2 separate regions of the Homo sapiens genome follow, and region 2 is linked to region 1. Evidence: fine-mapped expression QTL. A gene starts in region 1. The other region holds a variant in brackets. All regions are shown on one strand. Distances are from middle to middle.

Region 1 (10,907 bases):
AATTTTATAATTTAAGCTTGTTTCTAAGACTTGGGTGGGGAGTGAGCCACAAAGTGATGGGCTGGCTCACTTGTCCACAAGGAGTACCTCGGCCATAACCATATGTCCCAATTAGACTAATCCTGTAGGGAATCAATTAGAAAAAGGGAACCAACATTTTCTCAGTAGATTATTCTGTGTCCATGAGATGCCCAATATAAAATACCTCTGAGCTGTCCTCAGCATACCATACAGTGTCTCAGTTTACCTGTTCTATATTCAGCATCTCTGAATATATTACAACTGAAAGTCTCAGAACTATAATATTCTGAAGCAAAACTAAGCTTAGAATCTTCAGCATGTTGAAACTCATCACTCATCTACCCTTTTGTTTATTCTCTATCCATCCATCCACCCAACCATCCATCCATTCATTCATTCAGGAAATATGTATTGAATGCTTACTTAAGCACTGTCTTAAGATCTGAGGATATAGTGGTGAACAAGGCAGGCAAGAATCCTGTCATAAGAGCTTATGTTTTAGCGCAGAAGACAGTAAACAACTAAATTACAAAAATAAATTTTCATAGAGGTAATACTGTAAATGATATTTAAAATGGTGTTGCGATGATAACTAGAATGTGGGGTGGGGAGAAGACTATGGAGCTGAGATTAAAATGATGGGAGCCAGCAATGGAGAGGTTGGGATAAGGGTCTTCAAGGCAGAGAAAACTGCAAAATACAAAGGTCACGCAACAGGGTTAAATTCCATATACAATCCTCTAGGGGAAGATTAGTGGTGCCTTTTTATATATTAATTTAGAAATAACTTTGAGGATTATATGAAAGCGGTATGTGACTACAGACTTGAAAATTTTAATTCGTTTTACTAGTAGTTTTCAGACTGGCACATGTAGTAAATAGATCCCTTGTTACTGATGAACTTTGTGTTGTTGTAGAAAGTGAGTTGGCCGAGCAAAAATAAAACTATAATTTTGAATTTGCAAAATTATGCTTTAAATATTTACTTGCTATTATTCCTTGTGAAATAATAGATGGATAAGGAAGTTACAGGAATATGGACATGATCTCTCGGTGATGGTTTTACTTACTGTGCCATTTAGGTGATGATGATTCATCCAGTATACTTTTTTATTTGTGGAGGAGACGGAGTCTTGCTCTGTGGCTCAGGCTGGAGTGCTGTGGCGGGATCTCAGCTCACTGCAACCTCCACCTCCCGGGTTCAAGCTATTCTCGTGTCTTAGCCTCACGAGTTGCTGGGATTACAGGCATGTGCCTCCATGCCAGCTAATTTTTGTATTTTTAGTAGAGATGGAGTTTCACCACATTGGCCAGGCTGATTTCGAACCCCTGACCTCAAGTGTTCCACCCGCCTCAGCCTCCCAAAGTGCTGGGATTCCAGGCATGAGCCACCGTCCCCGGCCCATCCAGTATATTTTTAACGTCTACTGTGTCTCATAACGAAGCAAGAAATACCAAGTCAGTGGCCATTATACAAAATATGGGAGCTCAAAGTATGAAATCGTATTCCTTGTTCTGCAGTTATTATGGAGAAGTTCAATAATAACACACTTTTATTGAAGCTCACTAAATTCATGACCGGTGTTAGTTATGTGGCATAGATGGAGTTCCCAATGTAGAAGTGAGACAGACACAAATAATGACCTCTACCACAATATTTTAAGTGCTATAATAATTATAATATTGCCACAGCGCTAAGGGAATAGAGTTCCCCTATATGTTATAAGCCTTTATCAGACTTTAAAAATTTAGCATCTAATGGGATTTTTGAAATTCAGAAATTAAGAATGATTAACACTTTCTACATTGAGGAGGCATTCTCAATAAAAACCCAAATAGTGTGAAATCATAGGGAACTCATTTCTCATTATTAACATTTTTTTAAATGTCATATCCTCTAATGATAATACCTCTACCCAATGGGGAAAAATTCCTTTCCTTATGATCTCCTTATAATATTATATTTCCTATGATAGTATATCCTTATGATGTTATTTTATAGTAAGTATCCTTAGATGCTTAGCAGAAACTGAGTGTAATTTTTATGAACCTGTAAAATGGGACTCAAGCTTGGAGTCTTAATTCAGGGATATACATTTACAGTATAGGAAAGGGGCAATTATGATTAGGTACGTCTAGAATGTGAAACTATCAGTTGTTAGTATAGTGAATGTGTTGACAATATTTTCCTCCCAGCCTTTTCCCTGAACTACTTATATAGTTATAGCAAGATGATGAAGTTAAGGAGCTGTGATGAGATGAGTTCTAGAAACAACTCCATCTATATTGAAAGTTAAGTTAAAAACTAGTCACTATCAGATAAATGTATTTAATGACTTTTTAAGATTAATCTACAACCTGAGAGTACCAGAAAGGAATAATTGGGAACTGGTGAATGCTTTCAACTGATTTGATTAATTAACATGCTAATTGGAGACTATATTGTTTTACATTTTAATAACTGTTTTCACTTATTTTTTTTAGAAAGGCTGATACTCTGATATCTTTCAATAGATTTGGGTTATGTATAATGGTATATATTAAATTTTATTTGCTGGATTTTGTGGAATTGAATATACATATCTTAACTAGGAAAATTAATAAGATGATTTTTGAATGCTTATCCTCTGGGTTAAGGAGGACTAGCTAATATTAATTCTAATGCCTGAATTGTAAATTTAAGCACCCCTGTCAATGACACTTTATGTAATTCAAGTTCATATTCTATTCAGGTCATGAGCACCAGCACTGTAATTTTTTTTTTAAATGAGGTTGAGGAAAATGTTGAGATATATACAACACAATTTTACTATATCAATTCTGTGATCAAGAATTTTTAAGTGTGTAGCACTCTGCACACATTTTTATATAACAAAATAAATATTCTATGCATTATTTTACTTAAATTTTTTTTGAAACATTGTCTAAAATGGTCTCTTTGTTTATTTTATAGGGTGGGCTGAAAAACAGCAAACATGAATGCACCCTGTCTTCACAAGAATATGTTCATGAATTACGATCGGGTATATCAGATGAGAAACTTCTTAATTGCCTAGAATCCCTCAGGGTTTCTTTAACCAGCAATCCGGTCAGGTAAGTCGTTCTTATCATTTCGGTATGATTCATACAATTTGTAGTGCATATAATTGTTTGGGAATATAATAAGTTTTGTTATTTAAACCTCAAGATTTCCTGACTAAAAATCTGATGTTAATAAAACAGCAGCATCTGATTGTGAAGTCGTAAACTTTTAAAAATATATTTAGTTAGTTGGATCTCTAGTAATGTACAATTTTAAGAATACAAATGTTAACATAGAGCCAGAAGTTAAATATCCACATTTACATGGAAATCTATTTGTGGGATCAGATAATTATTATATATTTATTTATAAAGCAAATTAAGTATATTTGCTCCATGATTTTATTCTTTTTTTTTTTTGTGAGACAGAGTCTTGCTCTGTTGCCCAGGCTGGAGTGCAGTGGCACGATCTTGGCTCACTGCAACCTCTGCCTCCCAGGTTCAAGCAATTCTTCTACCTCAGCCTCCTGAGTAGCTGGGACTACAGGCACGCACCATCATGCCTGGCTGATGTTTGTATTTTTAGTAGGGAAGGGGTTTCACCATATTGGCCAGGCTGGTCTCGAACTCTTGATCTCGTGATCCACCTGCCTTGGTCTTCTAAAGTGCTGGGATTACAGGTGTGAGCCACCGCGCCCGGCCGATTTTATTCTTTTAAAACTTGAAAGGTATATATAACTTTATGTTCTTCTATAAGTTTTAGATATACTCTTCACATATTTCTGTAATTTTGAGATAGCAAAAAGTGAATTATTTTAACCAGTAAAAGAAGTGAGAGCATTAATAAACTTCTCAAAACTCTACTAATTTAGGCTATTAACTAACTACAAAGGATTGTTATTAGGTTACTTGCCAATGGTGGATTCCAGTAACTGTGGTTCCTTTATTAAGCCTTTAAATCAATAACACCCAAAATAAAATGTTTTATAAAGAAAAATAAAATTTCAATAAAATATCAAAACATTCTTGGCCGGGCGTGGGGGCTCACACCTATAATCCCTGCACTTCAGGGGGCTGAGGCAAGTGGATCGCTTGAGTCCAGGAGTTCGAGACCAGCCTGGCCAACATGGTGAAACCCCGTCTCTACCAAAAATACAAAAAAGTCAGCCAGGTGTGGTGATGTGCGCCTGTGGTCCCAGGTATTCACGAGGCTGAGGTGGGAGGATCACCTCAGCCCGGGAGGTGGAGGTTGCAGTGAGCCCATATCCCGCCACTGCACTCCAACCTGGGAGACAGAGCGAGACCCTGTCTCCAAAAAAAAAAAAAAAAAAAAAAAACAAAAAAACAAAAATCCGGGATCTATTTATGTAACTACTAGAATCTTAAGTTCAGAATTTACTCCATAAGAGTATATAAAAAACTTACTGTGATTTTATCCATGTTTTTCCTAATATATAATAGGTCTAAGTCTTGTACTTTTCTGTCCTGTCCACAGAGCCTTGAAAATAATTTAGAGCTCAGTCATTCAGTTTGGATTTATGTATAAATTGAAATATATTAATTACTTATTTATAGTGCACTTGGCAAAATGCCCAGAAAATTACAATTTTAAAACAACAAAAAATTTTTTAAAAGCCAGTGTTAAGATGTGACTTATCTTAGAGTATGATAATCGTTGAAAGACGATTGTCTTGCCATTTCTTCCAAAATGCTCCTAGGTTTTTTGTTTTTTGTTTTTTGTTTTTTTTTTTGAGACGGAGTTTTGTTCTTGTCACCGAGGCTGGAGTGCAGTGGTGCTGTCTCGGTTCACTGCAACCTCTGCCTCCTGGGTTCAAGCGATTCTCCTGCCTCAGCCTCCCGAGTAGCTGGGATTACAAGCCTGCACCACCACGCCTGGCTAATTTTAGTATTTTTAGTAGAGACGGGATTTCACCACGTTGGCAGGCTAGTCTCGAACTCCTGACCTCAAGTAATCAACCTGCCTCAGCCTCCCAAAGTTCTGGGATTACAGGCGTGAGCCACTGCGCCCGGCCTGATGCTCCTAGTTTTAATGGTTTGAATGAACAGGGGACGTGAGTTCTTGAGAACAGTAACTACGGTGGTGCATTTTTCCCCCCTGCACGTAACGTACAGCACTCTACCGTTTTGCCAAGCACTTTGTGCTCCTAAAATTTCTGTTGCATTGTTGTTTGAATGAATGAATAAATGAGTCTTTTAAAAGTAATTGTAGAAGTTGCAGCATTAAGAAATAAAGAGGGGGGCTAGTAAAAATGCATTTTTATAGAGATGTTGGGAAAGGCTTGCTTGAAATTACACGTGGGACTTTTAATAGATAGGCGCTTTGACCAGCTAAGCAACAGGGCTCCCCTCGTGTGGGACTTTTAGAATGTAGCAACCACTGACACACAGGGAAGGATTATGCGATCAGGTGAGAAGGTGGCCGACCCTGACTGGCTGGAAGCAGATGCATTCTGGTAGTTGATTGGTCCACAGGTAGCGTGACGCTTGTCACGTCCTCAGCCTCCCAGCATTCAATCGTAGCCTTTCGGACAGCTCGAAGCCTTCTGTGGAGAGCTCGAAGCCTTCTGTGGAGAACTCAAAGCCGTCCGTGGAGCCCCAGACGAGCCAAAGCCCACCTTCTCCTCAGCCTGAGCTGTCTTGAAGATGAGTAAGAGTGGGTTTGGGAGCTATGGCAGCATTTCTGCTGCTGATGGAGCGAGTGGAGGCAGTGACCAACTGTGTGAGAGAGATGCAACTCCTGCTATTAAGACCCAAAGACCTAAGGTCCGAATTCAGGACGTTGTACCGTGTAATGTGAACCAGCTTCTCAGCTCTACTGTGTTTGACCCTGTGTTCAAGGTTAGGGGAATTATAGTTTCCCAGGTCTCCATCGTGGGGGTAATCAGAGGGGCAGAGAAGGCTTCAAATCACATTTGTTACAAAATTGATGATATGACCGCGAAACCAATCGAGGCCCGACAGTGGTTTGGTAGAGAGAAAGTCAAGCAGGTGACTCCATTGTCAGTCGGAGTATATGTCAAAGTGTTTGGTATCCTCAAATGTCCCACGGGAACAAAGAGCCTTGAGGTATTGAAAATTCATGTCCTAGAGGACATGAACGAGTTCACCGTGCATATTCTGGAAACGGTCAATGCACACATGATGCTGGATAAAGCCCGTCGTGATACCACTGTAGAAAGTGTGCCTGTGTCTCCATCAGAAGTGAATGATGCTGGGGATAACGATGAGAGTCACCGCAATTTCATCCAGGACGAAGTGCTGCGTTTGATTCATGAGTGTCCTCATCAGGAAGGGAAGAGCATCCATGAGCTCCGGGCTCAGCTCTGCGACCTTAGCGTCAAGGCCATCAAGGAAGCGATTGATTATCTGACCGTTGAGGGCCACATCTATCCCACTGTGGATCGGGAGCATTTTAAGTCTGCTGATTGAGGCAGGGAAAACATCCTTTCATTTTTCGAAGACCCTTGCATCCAGCTGTGAGTAATTTTGACCTGTTGACTTTTTAGGAAGTAGGACTAAAAAAAAAAATCTCAAGTGGCATTCTTTGTCAACTCGCTGCTTTTCTAACTGCTTTGAACTTTTCGGATTTTCTGTATTTGAAGCTCAGAGAGAGACGGTGATGGATAAATTGACAACTCTGTAGGATTTACTAGCAAGCTAATGGAAACATGATTTTCGGGGAAGAAAAACTACAGAAAATGTAGAAATTTATTATTTAATTGTGTTGGAGCTTCTTTTTCCAAAAGAAAAACTAGTTGCAGTCAGGGAGCCAGCGAAAAGACAAAAAAAAAAAAAAAAAAAAAAAAAGTCTTGCTTGTTTTTATGTTAGACTTATTTTCCGTGTTTGGATTTAGCTTATTATAATGATACTGTTATCTCTTGCTCAATATAGTATTTAGTATTTGATTAATTCAAATGAGCTGAAGATACTAATTTGTGAATTCTAATGCTCAGTTCAAACATTTATGTGTGATTTGCTCTTATTACTATGAATTTATGTTTTCTTAAAATAAGATTATACTGTGTTTAAATAAACCATTTTTGCCAGGTTATCTTTGAAATTTTTTAAAATGTGGTGAAGTTCAATGATTATTTCATATATGATGTGGTATTTGGATGAAATTACAATTTATTGTAGTTGTATGGTAAATGGATGCCAGAGTTTCTGTAAGTTTGATGTGCTGGTGTATTATTTATTTTACTAAATGCTCTGTTTTATGTATAAAAAGGTAATTTTTAGGACGTTAGGGAAACAGCTCATAGGAATATGAAACTTACTGAGTTTAACACAAATTTATTCAAATGTTTTATTAAAGTAGTTTACAAAATCTTAACTTTCCTGTGTGATTTTTTTTTCTAAGTACATTTGAAAAAGCCTTTTTGTTTTATATCCTTGAGGATTAATAGTTTCACTTATCCAGAATTTTTTCTTTTCTATATATAAAATACCCAGAACATATGCTATAGCCTAGTTCTAACAATACATTTTAGTGTAGATTATATAAATTATGTGAGACTTTTAAATAATTGACCATTAACGAAAGCCCTCAGTTACCTATACACTAAAGATGGTGTCTTTCAAGATGCTAATTTTTTTACATTAGAGGAAATAAAAAACATATACTTTTTAATGAATATATGTTATATTTTATATATGTATATTCATATATAATATACAAATAGAAGAACATTATTTGTCAAATTGAATCATGAAAACTGCAACAAAAAAAAAATCTCTTAAATGGAACATTGCCAGTACTCCGTACTTTCAGGAAAACTTTCAGAAAATGGCCTGTGTCAGTGGCCATTAGAAAAACCACTAATTCTTGCTTAAGCTTTGTGATGCATATTTTTCTTCCCCTTGAAAGTAAAGAAATTGTAAATGGCACTCTTGAAAAGCACAGATGAATAACATACTATAAACCTGTTACTTAAATTATCAGACATTTTGAAAATTCTGGTCTTCATAAACCTAAAATATTCGGAACCACTTTTTGTTGAAAAAGGTTACCTGTCCTAGGGAAAATCATACTGGGGGAGAGGCAACAAGGGGCATATATACTTGGAATTGTGGAGCTGAAAGAGTCTAGCAGATACAATATTCTTTTGTGACATTAAAATCTGATATTTATGAGTATAATTATAGGTCACTCCCATAATTGCTTGAGCTGATTCAGCTGGCCAGTGGATGCGTAGCCACTTGTTTTTCCTATACTAGGAGCATGCGGAGGGGGAAAAAAACTCTTTTTTTTTTGTTTGGGAGGCCAAACTGCTTTTGTCCCTGCAAACTGATACACTGAGATATGTACACCTGAATTTAAGGCAGAAGACCAACCTCTCTCCCATCCTGTGAGGGGAAATGTCCTCTATCTGTGTTCGTTGGGGTTTTTTTAGGCTTTTAAAATTACTCCTCCCAACGCTTATTCTTCTGAATGGAATCGTGTGCTTTAGTGGATTCTGCTGCAGGTAAGAGATAGCAGTGGAAAAATAGTAAGTAGGTCTAGATATAATGTCAGTGGAAATAAAACACTTTTAGGCAGAAAATCACTGGATTGTTTTATACATGTATATTTAGTCCATGTTAAAGGTAGCAGATTTTTAAAGTTCATTTTGAACACCCACCTGGCATGCATACTTTTTCAATTTTGTTTAGACTGGGAATGACTTGGCTAATATCCCCTTTCTCCAAGGTCCTGCCCTGATAGTTAGCCACACCTTTTGAGGATAAGATACAAATCCTGGGGACATACTATTGACTATTTTGGGCAGGGACATTTAAGCCTGAGGAACCTGAAAAACATAATTGATGATTATAATCCACCCAAGGTTTTTTCCTATGGCTCACAGGCTTACGAAATGTATGTATTTATATTGAGGTTGATTCTAAATTAACTATGAATAAATATATTTGAAAGTGTTTTCAAGGCCAATATAATAATCTTACTATGGTCATAATTATTAGTGATCATTTTGTTACTTTTACCTACTAAATTTAGTAATATTTGGAGTAGAAGCTGAAAAACATAAGTTCTTATATTTTTTCAATTTCTGTTTACTTTTTATAACAGCAATTTAAAAAATGTAACTAGCAAGAATTATGTTTGTTCCTGAAACCTTTATTGAGTTCCTACTATATGCATTTAAGTGTTAACTTTAATTTTGATAAGCTTAAATTTTATTGACTTCTGAAATGCTTATTAAAGATAGTAATAGTTAACATTTTAACATTTATTTAGTATTTATTATCTCCCAAGTACTGTTCTAAGAGTAGGAGTTGTGTGTATGTGTTGTGCGTGTGTGTATGTGTGTGTGTGTATGTGTGTGTGTGTATGTGTATGTATGATCCCTGTGATGCGTAGATTTACGTTTTCAGCTCAGACCTCTCTGTTTCTCTCTCTCTTTTTTTTTTTGAGACAGAGTCTTGCTCTTGTGGCCCAGGCTGGAGTGCAATGTCACAATCTCGGCTCACTGCAACCTCTGCCTCCCAGGTTCAAGTGATTCTCCTGCCTCAGCCTCCTGACTAGCTGGGATTACAGGTGCCCGCCACCATGCCTGGCTAATTTTTATATTTTTAGTAAAGACGGGGTTTCGCCATGTTGGCCAGGCTGGTCTCAAACTCCTGACCTCGTGATCCGCCTGCCTCGGCCTCCCAGAGTGCTGGGATTACAAGTGTGAGCCACCCACCTGGCCAGACCTCTCTTTTGAAATTGAGACTCCATCTCCAAATGTCTTATTGGATGACATATAGGCATTTTTAATACATTAAAAAATAATGAAAAATTATGTGTGATATGTGTTTTTTATATATATATATAACACAGATATATATCTCTATATATGTACACACAGATACATATATCTATATATATACATACAGATATATATATCTATATATATACACAGATATATATATCTATATATATACAGATATATATATCTATATATATCTATATATATACACAGATATATATATCTATATATATATTACCATGTATATACAGATATATATATATCTGTGTATATATTAGTATGTATATGGCATTTACTACCCCTGTGCAATGTTTTAAGACCTTTAAATGTACATATACAATCAGGATAACAGTATTGTTCGTATTTTGTAGATGAACTTGAGGCTCAGAGAGGTTAAGTAATTTGCGCCATATTAAAGTTGCATGCCCAGCAAGTGTCAGTGTTAAGATTTAAACCCAGGCTTTGTATCTCTCGAGAGCCTAGGCCTTTAACAACTGGTTTGTACAGTGTCACAATAAGGAAAGTCTATTAAAATAGTATTCTTTCACTGTTGTTAGTATTCTTTCACTGTCATCACATACTGAATATTTTGACTTTCTTTCATTAATATTTGTCTGATTTAAATGAAAAAGAAACTATGAAAACTTTCAGCAAATGTGTAGAAGATAATATAAAAACACCTTTGTACTCATCTATCAGCTTAAGAGACAAAACATTATTTTTTGCTGTGGTAGAGAACTTAGTTGAATAACTTGGGAGTTTTTTTATGATATCGTAATACCATTTGGGCCTATATTTTCATTGATTTAAAAGATCGTCTGAAATTCTACATTTTCTCTAAATCTATGCATGTAGTTTTTGCAATATAATATCTTAAGAATATATATCAGTGTATTGAAAAGCCTATTTTTTTTTCTGATCACATAGCTGTGTGTAAATTGGGACTTCTTTGCCCTATCCATTGTGGATGATACTTCTAGTAATTCTAACACCATCTCTATGATATTTATTCCAATTTGCCATCATGTGATAAATTACGAAAACAATTTTTTAACATTAAGAGTTAATTTCCTTTGGTAATACCTTAAATTGGA
Region 2 (10,907 bases), 880 kb after region 1:
TAGTTAAACTTTAGTTATCAAATTATATTATCTCCATTTGCCTCAACCTACATCATTTGGATCAAATAGAATGCAAGTGCCATAACACAGATCCTATGGTGCTATATTTATTTCAGATATTCCCCATAAATTATTTATTGCAAATTTAAAATATTGGGAAAATTTGTAGCGCAGATAGATTATCCAGGAATCCTTGAGTAAATCCTCTTTGCCTGTTAAGAAGTGCTGAGAAAAGCTGATCTAAATGTTTCCTCATATTTTTAAATTTCACTAATGACTTTAATGCAAGTTCCTTGTAGAGAGGCAGTGGTTTCTCTCTGCAAGATTCATGACATGTTTACTGCCTTTTTTTTCTTCCTGATGGACATGTCTACACTGCAAGAGACATAAGATCCTGGGTATTTGAAAATTAAAGAACAGCAGCAAAAGGCCAGATGCCGTAGTTATAAAAGTTGCAAAAGTATCATAAACACCAGGTGTGCCATATAAATGCACAGGTTTTTTTTACACTGCCACACTATTATCATATGGTTCCAACATCTGTTCGTTCCTGTCCGGGCTTCCCACAGACAGTATTTATTAAAATCAAATACGCACTAACTCTCACTTATGTGCCTTGAGCAGGAAGTGCCACAGTGGCCTTATTATGGCATGTAAGTGGGCCAATAAAAATTGATTTTTATCAGTAAAGTTCCAATTATCCTTACAAGCCAATATAGTATCGTCTGTATGCCTTGTACTTGCTAATGACTCTGTGGTTTCTATGACAGTGGGGCCAATACAAAAGTTTTTGTTACTAATTCCAAATAATTGGAGGATGAGAGGAGAGGCCAGTTTAGCTTTGTAAAGAGTCTCTATTAAAAATTATTACTTAAAAAATGTTATTTTCTGATTTTCAACTAGAGGACATATTCGAAATTATAAATGAATGTAAAGAAGTAAATATTTTAATGAAAGTATTAAAAGGCTTCACGAATTTATATCATAAAGTGATACATTAAAAGCAACCAACCTAGCAAAGAGAAAATGACACTGGTCTGGAAATCATGAACCTTATGTTCTGGTTCTTAATCTATCCCTACCACTCTTTAGGTCTTAGTTTTCTCATCTGGGAAAATGAGCAGACTGGAAAATCTGTACTATGTTCCCTTCCTATTTTGATTATTTATGACTCTAATGATAAAAAAAATTCAGTGACAGAAACTTTTTTCTTTAGCTCTTGATTTAATAAATTCTCCCGTTTTTTACAAAAATATTTTCCTGTTGACTTAATAGAAAATATCCACATTGTATCTGAGATATCACAAACACCAAACCAGTAGATTTCAAATTAATGAGTAGTTTGACAGGGTTGTTTTTTGAACAAAAAGAAAATATTAAAAAGAAATGAGAAACAATGTACTACCAAGTGAATGTTAAAAGAATTGGGTATCTGGCCAGGTGCGGTGGCTCATGCCTATAATCCCAGCACTTTGGGAGGGTGAGGAGGGCTGATCACCTGAGGCCAGGAGTTGGAGACCAGCCTGGCCAACATGGCGAAATCCCATCTCTACTAAAAACACAAAAAATTAGCCAGATGGGGTGGTGCGTGCCTGTAATCCCAGCTACTTGGGAGGCTGAGGCAGGAGAATCGCTTAAACCTGGAAGGCCGAGGTTGCAGGGAGTTGAGATTGCGCCACTGCACCCCAGCCTGGGTGACAGAGCAAGACTCTGTCTAAAAAAAAATAAATAAATAAAAACAGAATTGGGTATCTGTTTATTGGGTATCTGTTTAAATAGGAATATTAGAACCCCCACCTACCTCATATCATACATAGAAATAAATTCCAGAAGGATGAAAGATTCTAAATATTTCTTACAAAACCATACAGATATGTGGCGAACACCGAAGAACTGTTAAGATGTCTCTTTGATGAAGGACTTACTGCCCCAGCTGCTGAGAATGCTGTTAGTAGATGGTCTTCAGAAGATTCCGGCCCCTTCAGTGATTGCCTCAGCTGCAGAAAGCTGCCTCTCCCAAGGTCACACCCCTTCCCATGGGAGCAGTCCACATCCAATGACTGATCACATGCAGGAATATATAGGCATGGCCATCTCAGTTCAATTAAAGAGCTGCCCATGAGGTAGGCTGAGGTTGTCATTGGCTTAGCATGGCAGCTCAACTTCTGCCTCTGACTAATTGTTTCCTTTTCCTTCAATTTACAGGTGTTGATGCCAAGAACGCTAATAAAAATCCAGAGGGCTAAAGTTTGTCTCAGATTCTGCATACGGAGGAACTCAAGCTGTGACAACATGTTAGAATAAAATGTAAAAGAATACCTATCTTTTTAAAAAATTTAATTTAATTTAATTTTAAGTTCTGGGATACATGTGCAGGATGTGTAGGTTTGTTGCATAGGTAAACATGTACCATGGTGATTTGCTGCACCTATCAACCCATCACCTAGGTATTAAGACCCACGTACATTAACTATTTATCCTGGTGCTCTTCCTCCCCCCGTACCCCCTGACAGGCCCCAGTGTATGTTGTTCCCCTCCCTGTGTCCATGTGTTCTCATTGTTCAGCTCCCACTTATAAGAAGTGAGAACATGCAGTGTTTGGTTTTCTGTTCCTGTGTTCATTTGCTGAGGATCATGGCTTCCAGCTCCATCCATGTCCCTGCAAAGGACATAATCTCATTCATTTTTATGGCTGCATAGTATTCCATGGTGTATATGCACCACATTTTCTTTATTCTGTCTATCACTGATGGACATTTGGATTGATTCCATGTCTTTGCTATTGTGAATAGTGCTGCAGTGAATATATGTGTGCATGTATCTTTATATTAGAATGATATATATTCCTTTGGGTATACACCCAGTAATGGAATTGCTGGGCCAAATGGTATTTCTGGTTCTAGATCTCTAGATCTAGAGGAATCATCACACTGTCTTCCACAATGGTTGAACAAATTTACATTCCCACCAACAGTGTAAAAGTGTTCCTATTTCTCCACAGCCTCACCAGCATCTGTTGTTTCTTGACTTTTTAATAATTACCATTCTGACTGGCGTGAGGTGGTGTCTTATTGTGGTTTTGGTGTGCATTTCTAATGATCAGTGATGTTGAGCTTTTTTTCTTGTGTTTGTTGACCACATACTTGTCTTCTTTTGAGAAGTGTCTTTTCATGTCCTTTTTCCACTTTTTGATGGGGTTGTTTGTTTTTTTTCTTGGAAATTTGTTTAAGTTTCTTGTAGATTCTGGATATTAGACCTTTGTCTGATGGGTAGACTGCAAAAATTTTCTCCCACTCTGTAGGTTGTCTGCTCACTCTGATGATAGTTTCTTTTGCTGTGAAGAAGCTCTTTAGTTTAATTATATCCCATTTGTCAATTTTTGCTTTTGTTGCAATTACTTTTGATGTTTTTGTCGTGAAATCTTTGCCCATGTCTATGTTCTGAATGGCAAAGAATATCTATCTTTAAAATAATCTTGAGTGTGGGAAAGTGTTCTTAAACAGAATATAAAAGCCAAAATCCATAAAGAAAGAAATGGAAAGATCTGACAAAATGAAAAGTAAAAGCTTCTTTCAGCATTATGAAAGACATCCTAAGCAAAATTAAAAGGCATTTTTTGAGGAAATATTTTTTAACATAAATAATAGACAAAGTTCATATCTGCAATATATAAAGACCTCCTACAAATAAATAAGAAGCCACCGTCTGCCCAAAAAAGGATAATATATATGAGCAAGAAATTTTTTAAAAGAGATGTTGTGGCCAGGCGCAGTGGCTCATGCCTGTAATCCTAGCACTTTGGCAGGCCAAGGTGGACAGATTGCCTGAGCTCAGGAGTTTGAGACCAGACTGGGCAACATGGTGAAACCCCATCTCTACTAAAATACAAAAAAAAAAAAAAAACAAAAAAAAAACCAACAAAAAAAACACAAAATAATTAGCCGGGCGTGGCGGTGTACACCTGTAGTCCCAGCTACTCAGGAGGCTGAGGCAATTGCTTGAACCCGGGAGGCAGAGGTTGCAGTGAGCGGAGATCGTGCCGCTGCACTCCAGCCTGGTGGCAGAGCGAGACTCCTTCTCAAAAAAATAAAAAAAATAAAAAAAAAATAAATGTTGCCAATAATGTAGGAAAGATGTTCTCAGCCTTTCTTGCAATCAAAGAGAGAATTGTCAACATAGAGAATAAGCTAACTTGTAAAATGAAAAAGGTTGATAGTATACACAATTGGCAAGAGGATGGGGGAAATGGGTACTCAAGATATTTGTGGAAATGTAAATGTTATTTTGAAAGGCATTTGGGCAGTAATTTCTCAACATTTTAAATGTGTATGCTCTTTGATCTAGCAATTTTTCTTTTAGGAATATATGCTGCAGAAATATTAACACATGCACACAAAAAGGTGCATGAGAAGGTTTATGCAAGACTTATTTTTAATAGGAAGAATTGGCTATCTATTTGAATAGGAAAATCAGAACCCCTATCTATCTCATATCATACATAAAAATAAATTCCAGAAGGATGAAAGATTCTAAATATAAGAAAACAAAACCACACAGACGTGTGGTGAACACTGAAGGATTGCTTAGATGTCTCTTTGGTGAAGGACTTTCTGTCCCAGTAAGTCCTTTGAAACAAGCATCCCAAAAGAGGGGACAACTGTTTAAAAATATTGTGCATTATTAAATGCTATAGATATGCTAAAAAGAGTGAGCTTGATCTATGTGTATTGTCATGGAAGGATATTTGTGTCGTGATATATTGCTAACAAAAGAGAAGTTGTATAAAAATGCATAACACACATATGCATACATGCATGCATTTTATAAGTGCATAGGGACATTCTGGAAAGAAATGCACACGAGGAGAGGGAAGTTGGTTGTGGTACTGTAGAAAGACAACATTTACTTTTACTCTAGATACCTCTGAATTATTTAATACTTTTACATGGAACTTGCATTACTTTTGTAATTGAAACAATTTAAAAGAGAAGGAATGAAATGCACTAGAGGAACAAACTTGATGCTTTTTCTTTGTTTGGCTTCACCATTATTCATATTACTACTACCACTAGAGACAGTCACTTGGAATTTTCTTTTGTCCAAATGCTGTATAATGTATTCCATCGTATTCCATTTTTCTGAAAATGATCTAATTTACATGATCAAATAGCACTTGATTCTCATTCACACAAATGTCTTGAAAACCAGGTAAGTGAAGTGAGCTACTGACATTTATAGAATATAATCTATATATTAAAATTTCTGGATTCAAGTTCACAAGATTCATTTTATTCCCCGCAAAGGCTGTGGTCACCTAAAAGGGAATGAAATATCTAAGAAGGGAATGAGCTCTGAAAAGTGGAAAGTAGGGTTTCAGAATATGAGAACATCCCTGA[G/A]GCCATTTCTTCACAGAATAAAGTGGAGTCAAAATTTGGAAATGCCGGTGGTGAACTGGAGATGTGCCAACAACTTTGTGCTGTGTAAACCAATTTAAAGAAAGTTAGTGTTGGGAGGTGAGGTTTACACCTTCATCCTTTGCTGGCTGATGCTAAGTTAAATCCTTCACCCTCCACTCCCGCAAAAACCCCTGCTCCTTTGAAGTTCTTGCCCTCTAGCTATGCCACCATCAGTTTCTCTTCAGCTCCCTTACGTATTGACTTTCTCCTCACTATCTTACTTTCAGTGAAGACTTTGATTTCTATTCTTCCCAAATTCTGCTGTCATCTGGAGACTTCGGGGTTTGTTCGGATAATCCTTCCAACCTCAGGGGTTTCCAAATCAGTGTGCACTGGAAACGTGTAAAAGTTTTTCAAAGTGTGTATTTCTGAGTTTTGCCTACTACATCAGAATCTCTCAAGGTGGGGGGGCCTTAGCTTCTGGAATGTCTAAAACCACCACAGATTATCATTCTAATACAGTCAGAACCGCGAATCACTTGCAGCCTTGCTCTTTGTCTGCCTCAACCTGTAACTTTGCATTCAACTTTTCTGGCTACGTAGTAGACATTTTCATTACCGTAGCTGCCCAACAGGTTCTTCCTTCCAGCTGCTCAGATAGAGTCGATTTATCAAGAGAGAGGAATTGCAATAAAGAGTTTAATACATATAGAGCCAGCTAAATGGGAGACTAAAGTTTTATTATTACTCAAATCGTTTCCCCGAATATTCAGAGCCTAGGGTTTTTAAAAAATAGTTCAGTGGGCAGGTGGCTAGGGAATGCGTGTTGCTGATCAATTGGGGATGCAATCATAGTGGTGTGGAAAATGGTCTGGGTGGAACCATCCAGTTACCAGAAATGCAAAAGTCTGAAAAGACATCTCAAAAGGCCAATTTTTTGTTCTACAATAGTGATGTTATTTACAGGAGTAACTGGGGAAGCTGCAAATCTTCTGACCTCTGGAATAATGGCTGGTAATTGTTTAACTATGCCTACATCTTATCAGAATCCAGGGCCCTCTCATTCTCCTAACCTGGTGGCCTTTCATTAGTTTTACAAAGGCAGGTTAGCTCTTTGGGAAGGGCTACTATCATTTAAACTATAAACTACATTTCTCCTAAAGTTAGCTAGTCTCATGACAAGGAGTGACCAAGGGCAGTTTGGAGGTTAAAGGCAAGATGGAGTTGGTTAGACAGTAAAAGATCTCTTTTACTGTCAACAGTTCTCTCATTGTTATAATTTTTGCAAAGGCAGTTTCATTTCTTGAAACCTCACCACCTATGAAATCTTAAACTCCAAGAATCCATTCTCTGGTTATGACCTCAAGTTTTCCAACTCACTCTCCTCAATTCTACTATAGCTAGTCTTCACTGTAGTGAGATATCCACTACCTTGAACAGCTCCAGTTCTTGTAGACTTTTTGTCCCTTACTGGCTTCTCAAAGATCATGTAATTTTCCCTTCTGCTGTACCAGTCCAGCATAACTCCAACCCTCAGGTATACAAAATTATCTTTACTCTCTGCCTTTGCCCAGTCTCATTTATTCTCTACATTGCAGGCTGAGTAACCTTTTTAAATGCAAATTTAACCACAGGAACTTCCCCCACCCCTCCAAATTGCCTTGCTTAATCCTTTAAATGGCTCCCCATAGTTCTTAGGATAAAGTCCCAATTCCACAGTATGCCATATAAAATCAGCAATAATTTTTGCCCTGTGTGCATTTGTTTCTGGGCTCAGTTCCTACCTCTCTCTATTTCAAAATCTATGCTTCATCTACACTGAGATGCTAGTACCTTCCCCCACACTCATCATGATGTTTCTTATTTATGAGCATGTCCTCTCTGTCTGGAATGCCCTCAGCCCTCTTTGCAAGCCTAGCTCCTATTTATCCTTTAAAGACTCCTCTCAGGAGGCATCTCCTCCCTGATGAAATCTCAGAGGTGACTTAGTTTTTAAAACTCAAATTCTCTAGGCACTTTATATTTGGTACCTAGACCCAGGGTGATATTAAAATATTGAGCAATCAGATACCAGTGCATGCTGGTTGTGCATCAAACCTGCTCAGGCAATAAAATACTGTAATATTTAAAGAGTCTCTCTCCTTTCCTGTCTCCTCTTTCCCTCATTGGTTCCACTTATCAGCAAAACCCTGGGCAACTGAGCTGGGGCAGAATCAGCAGCTGAAACTTTCATTGTGTACCAATAAAAATGTCATTAGAAACCTTGAGGCTTAACTTTTTCCATCCTCATGCGTCATTGCTAAGGGATTCCTTCAGACCACTTCTATATTTCTGCCTGCTCCACCCTGGTAATCAGTGCCTTACATACAATGGTAGGCTCTGGGTTAGTAATAATATCTTTTCAAGAAAGGTGACTGGTAAGAATTTCTCAGGGACACACCTAAATAAACCAAAACCCAAGGTCAATATATTACAGTGACAAAAAGGAGATTTGTTGGATTGAAAGAAAACAATCCCAAGTTAGAGATGTGTTTCACTTTCTCTTTTTTGATATGAATAGTTTCTATATATAGTTGTCACACCTATGAAGAATGTAATTTTTAGAGGACCAGGCCATATTTATCTATTTGCCATGTTTAAGATAGTGCTAGAGATATAATAGTTATTCAATAAATATTTGTTGACTGACTCAATGAATGAAAGGATGGATGTACCATTCTTTAGTAGAGATGAGCAATTATTACTTGGTAAAAGAAAGCAGAAACTAAGAAGGATGTTATACTTCTACTAAGAATACTTCTACTAAGAAAACTACAACAGTTGGAGGGAGCAATTTAAAGTTGAGCTGAAATTCTTTAGTATTGTTATCTCAAGTGCCACAATAAGGAATTCATTCTTTTGTACTGTGAAAACTCACTTGTGTGATACCTAGCATGTAATGCCAAACCATTTGCATGCTGTTCAAAGAATTGTTCTGCATATAGATTGGTTTGTGTACCCATATGTATAAAAATTCAATTTAAAGGAGCAGCAGAATTAGTCAATGAGATTGAAGTTTCTCTTCAACATTCACTGTAGACGAAAGAGGTGCCCATGCTTATTTGTATGTTTAAGGAGGGAAGCTGGAGGAGGTATCTGATGCATGTCTTGCAAAGAATAAACAATATTAACATTTTTCCTGTGTATCATTGTTTTCTCTCTTGCTTGCTCTCTTTACTGCAGATGTTGTGGCTATTTCTTGATGGTTTTCAGGCTCCAGTTCATTAAGATTACTGCAATTGGTGCCTCTGCTGAGGATTTCACTACTGTCTTTCACCAGCAGGTACACAGCAACATGAATATGCTTCTAAATCACATTTATGCTTACTTCAAAATTATAACAGCTGGATTATCTGACTCTGTACTGTCGCTCTTGTCAAATAAATAAATTAACCCCTAAATCTCTTCTAGAGCAAAGCCAAAATCAGTGTTCCTGTAAACTTTCCAAAGTTAAAATACAGGGGTTTTTCTCCTGTATTGTTTTAAGCAGGGTAAAAATACTGAATTTAAAATATTGGAAAAATATTAGATAGACTCAACCATGAAATAAAACTGTTTTATATTTCCCCATAGCTATCTTTTCACATGCAGGGTAGGTCTCTCTTCATTGATTGGTTTCCTTTTATTACATAGTGTTCTGGGAGAAGCAAAGTAATCTTGAGCACCATAAGTGTAACCACCCAAGGGGTTCACCTTGCCCGCTGCCTAGACAGAGCCAATTCATCAAGACAAGGGAATTGCAGTCAAGAAAGAGTAATTCACGCAGAGCCAGCTGTGTGGGAGATCGGAGTTTTATTATTACTCAAATCAGTCTCCCCGAGTATTGGGGGAGCAGAGTTTTTAAGGATAACTTGGTGGGTGGGGGGAAGCCAGTGAGTCAGGAGTGCTGATTGGTCAGAGATGAAATCATAGGGAGTCGGAGCTGTCTTCTTGCCTCTGAGTCAGTTCCTGGGTGGGGCCATAAGATCAGATGAGCCAGTTCATTGATCTGGGTGGTGCCAGCTGATCCATCAAGTGCAGGGTCTGCACAATTTCTCAAGCAGTGATCTTAGGAGCAGTTTAGGGAGGGTCAGAATCTTGTAGCCTCCAGCTGCATGACTTCTAAACCATCATTTCTAATCTTGTGGTTACTGTTAGTCCTACAAAGGCAACCTAGTCCCAGGCAGGAAGGAGGTCTGCTTTGGGAAAGGGCTGTTACCGTCTTTGTTTAAACTAAGTTTCTCCCAAAGTTAGTTCAGACTACGCCCAGGAATGAACAAGGCCAGCTTGGAGGCTAGAAGCAAGATGGAGTCAGTTAAGTTAGAACACTTTCACTGTCTCAGTCATAATTTTGCAAAGGCGATTTCATAAGGGTCAAAGAAACTGTGAACTTGTGGATTAAACTTGCAAAAATGCTTTCTTGATGAGGACTGTTTGTCTTTCTTGTCTTCTGATATATATCAATTTGCAAATTAAAATAGAATCTTTAAGGCCTCTCTGATTTCTGTTTGAATTTGAAATGGGATACAGCTCCCAGATTCCTTTATCTGACATTCTAACTCATAGGGGTACTGCTCAAAGCTGCCAGAACATGTTTTTCATTCCGTAAGTGTCAACTGAGCCCTTAATCCTCTTCAAGTTGGTTAAATAAGTTAGTGCGGGAAGTTGTGTCATGAGAAGGAATCCCACAGACTTGGAACTAAAAAGATTTAGGGGGAATTAGTTAGGTCCTCTTGAGATAAGGCAGGGTTGCTTTATCTAACTGGTCACTCCTTTTACATGACTGATAGAGGATGAAAAAAATGTCTCTGAACTTCTCAATCTAGATTTATTTTTGCAGCTTAACTCAGCCTTGGCTCATGTGCCTGCCCATCTCCATTATTAGAGTCAAAGAAGGGTTTTTGGTGTGTGAATTTTCCTCTGGAATCAGATAGAGAAAGATAAGCAGATGAATAGAGCTTTGCATTTACATGACAACAGAAGAGCAAAAGACAAATGGCGCCAGACATGGTGACTCATGCCTATAATCCCAGCACTTTGGGAGGCCAAGGCTGGTGGATCACCTGAGGTCAGGGGTTCGAGACCAACCTGGCCAACCTAATGAAAACCCGTCTCCACTAAACATACAAAAATTAACTGAGTGTGGTGGCACACACCTGTAATTCCAGCTACTCAGGAGGCTGAGGCAGGAGAGTCACTTGAACCGGGGAGGCAGAAATTGCTGTGAGCCGAGATCATGCCATTGCACTCCAGCCTGAGTAACAGAGCAAGACTTTGTCTCAGAAAAAGAAAAAGAAAAAAAAAAAAGACAAATAGAAAGAAAAGACACCCTGTGCAATTGTGTCTTTCTTTCAACAATTTGTCGACACATGTGTTTGGATTGTACTCATCATTGGTTTATATTGGACAAAGAATAACCCTATCAGTTCCTGTGTTGAAAAGAGGGCAAATTCATGTGAACTGGAGCAATCTTTACATGGAATAAGTGCAAAA

Which allele goes with the higher level. Alleles are on the strand shown, and positions count from the first base shown. SD is a standard deviation of normalised expression in the study named.
As copies of G replace A in region 2, the expression in breast of the gene that starts at base 5,304 in region 1 goes up (small effect, 0.12 SD a copy in GTEx).

What was found. PIP is the estimated chance that this variant, and not a neighbour inherited with it, causes the effect. A credible set is the group of variants that fine-mapping cannot tell apart.
Region 2: its variant is the best candidate, but not a certain one, in a credible set for the expression of RPA4 in breast (GTEx, PIP 0.58).

The regions. Positions count from the first base shown.
Region 1 is chrX:96,878,605-96,889,511 of GRCh38, forward strand. It overlaps RPA4 (replication protein A4), which reads left to right and starts at 5,304. Exons shown (of 1, transcript NM_013347.4): 1 at 5,304-6,863. The coding sequence starts at 5,707. The coding sequence ends at 6,492. DIAPH2 (diaphanous related formin 2) reads left to right here. Exons shown (of 27, transcript NM_006729.5): 5 at 2,975-3,114.
Region 2 is chrX:97,756,515-97,767,421 of GRCh38, forward strand. No RefSeq gene overlaps it. Among named protein-coding and RNA genes, the nearest start is that of ERVFC1, 80 kb to the right of the region's middle. The variant G/A (reference allele first, on the strand shown) is at 5,397.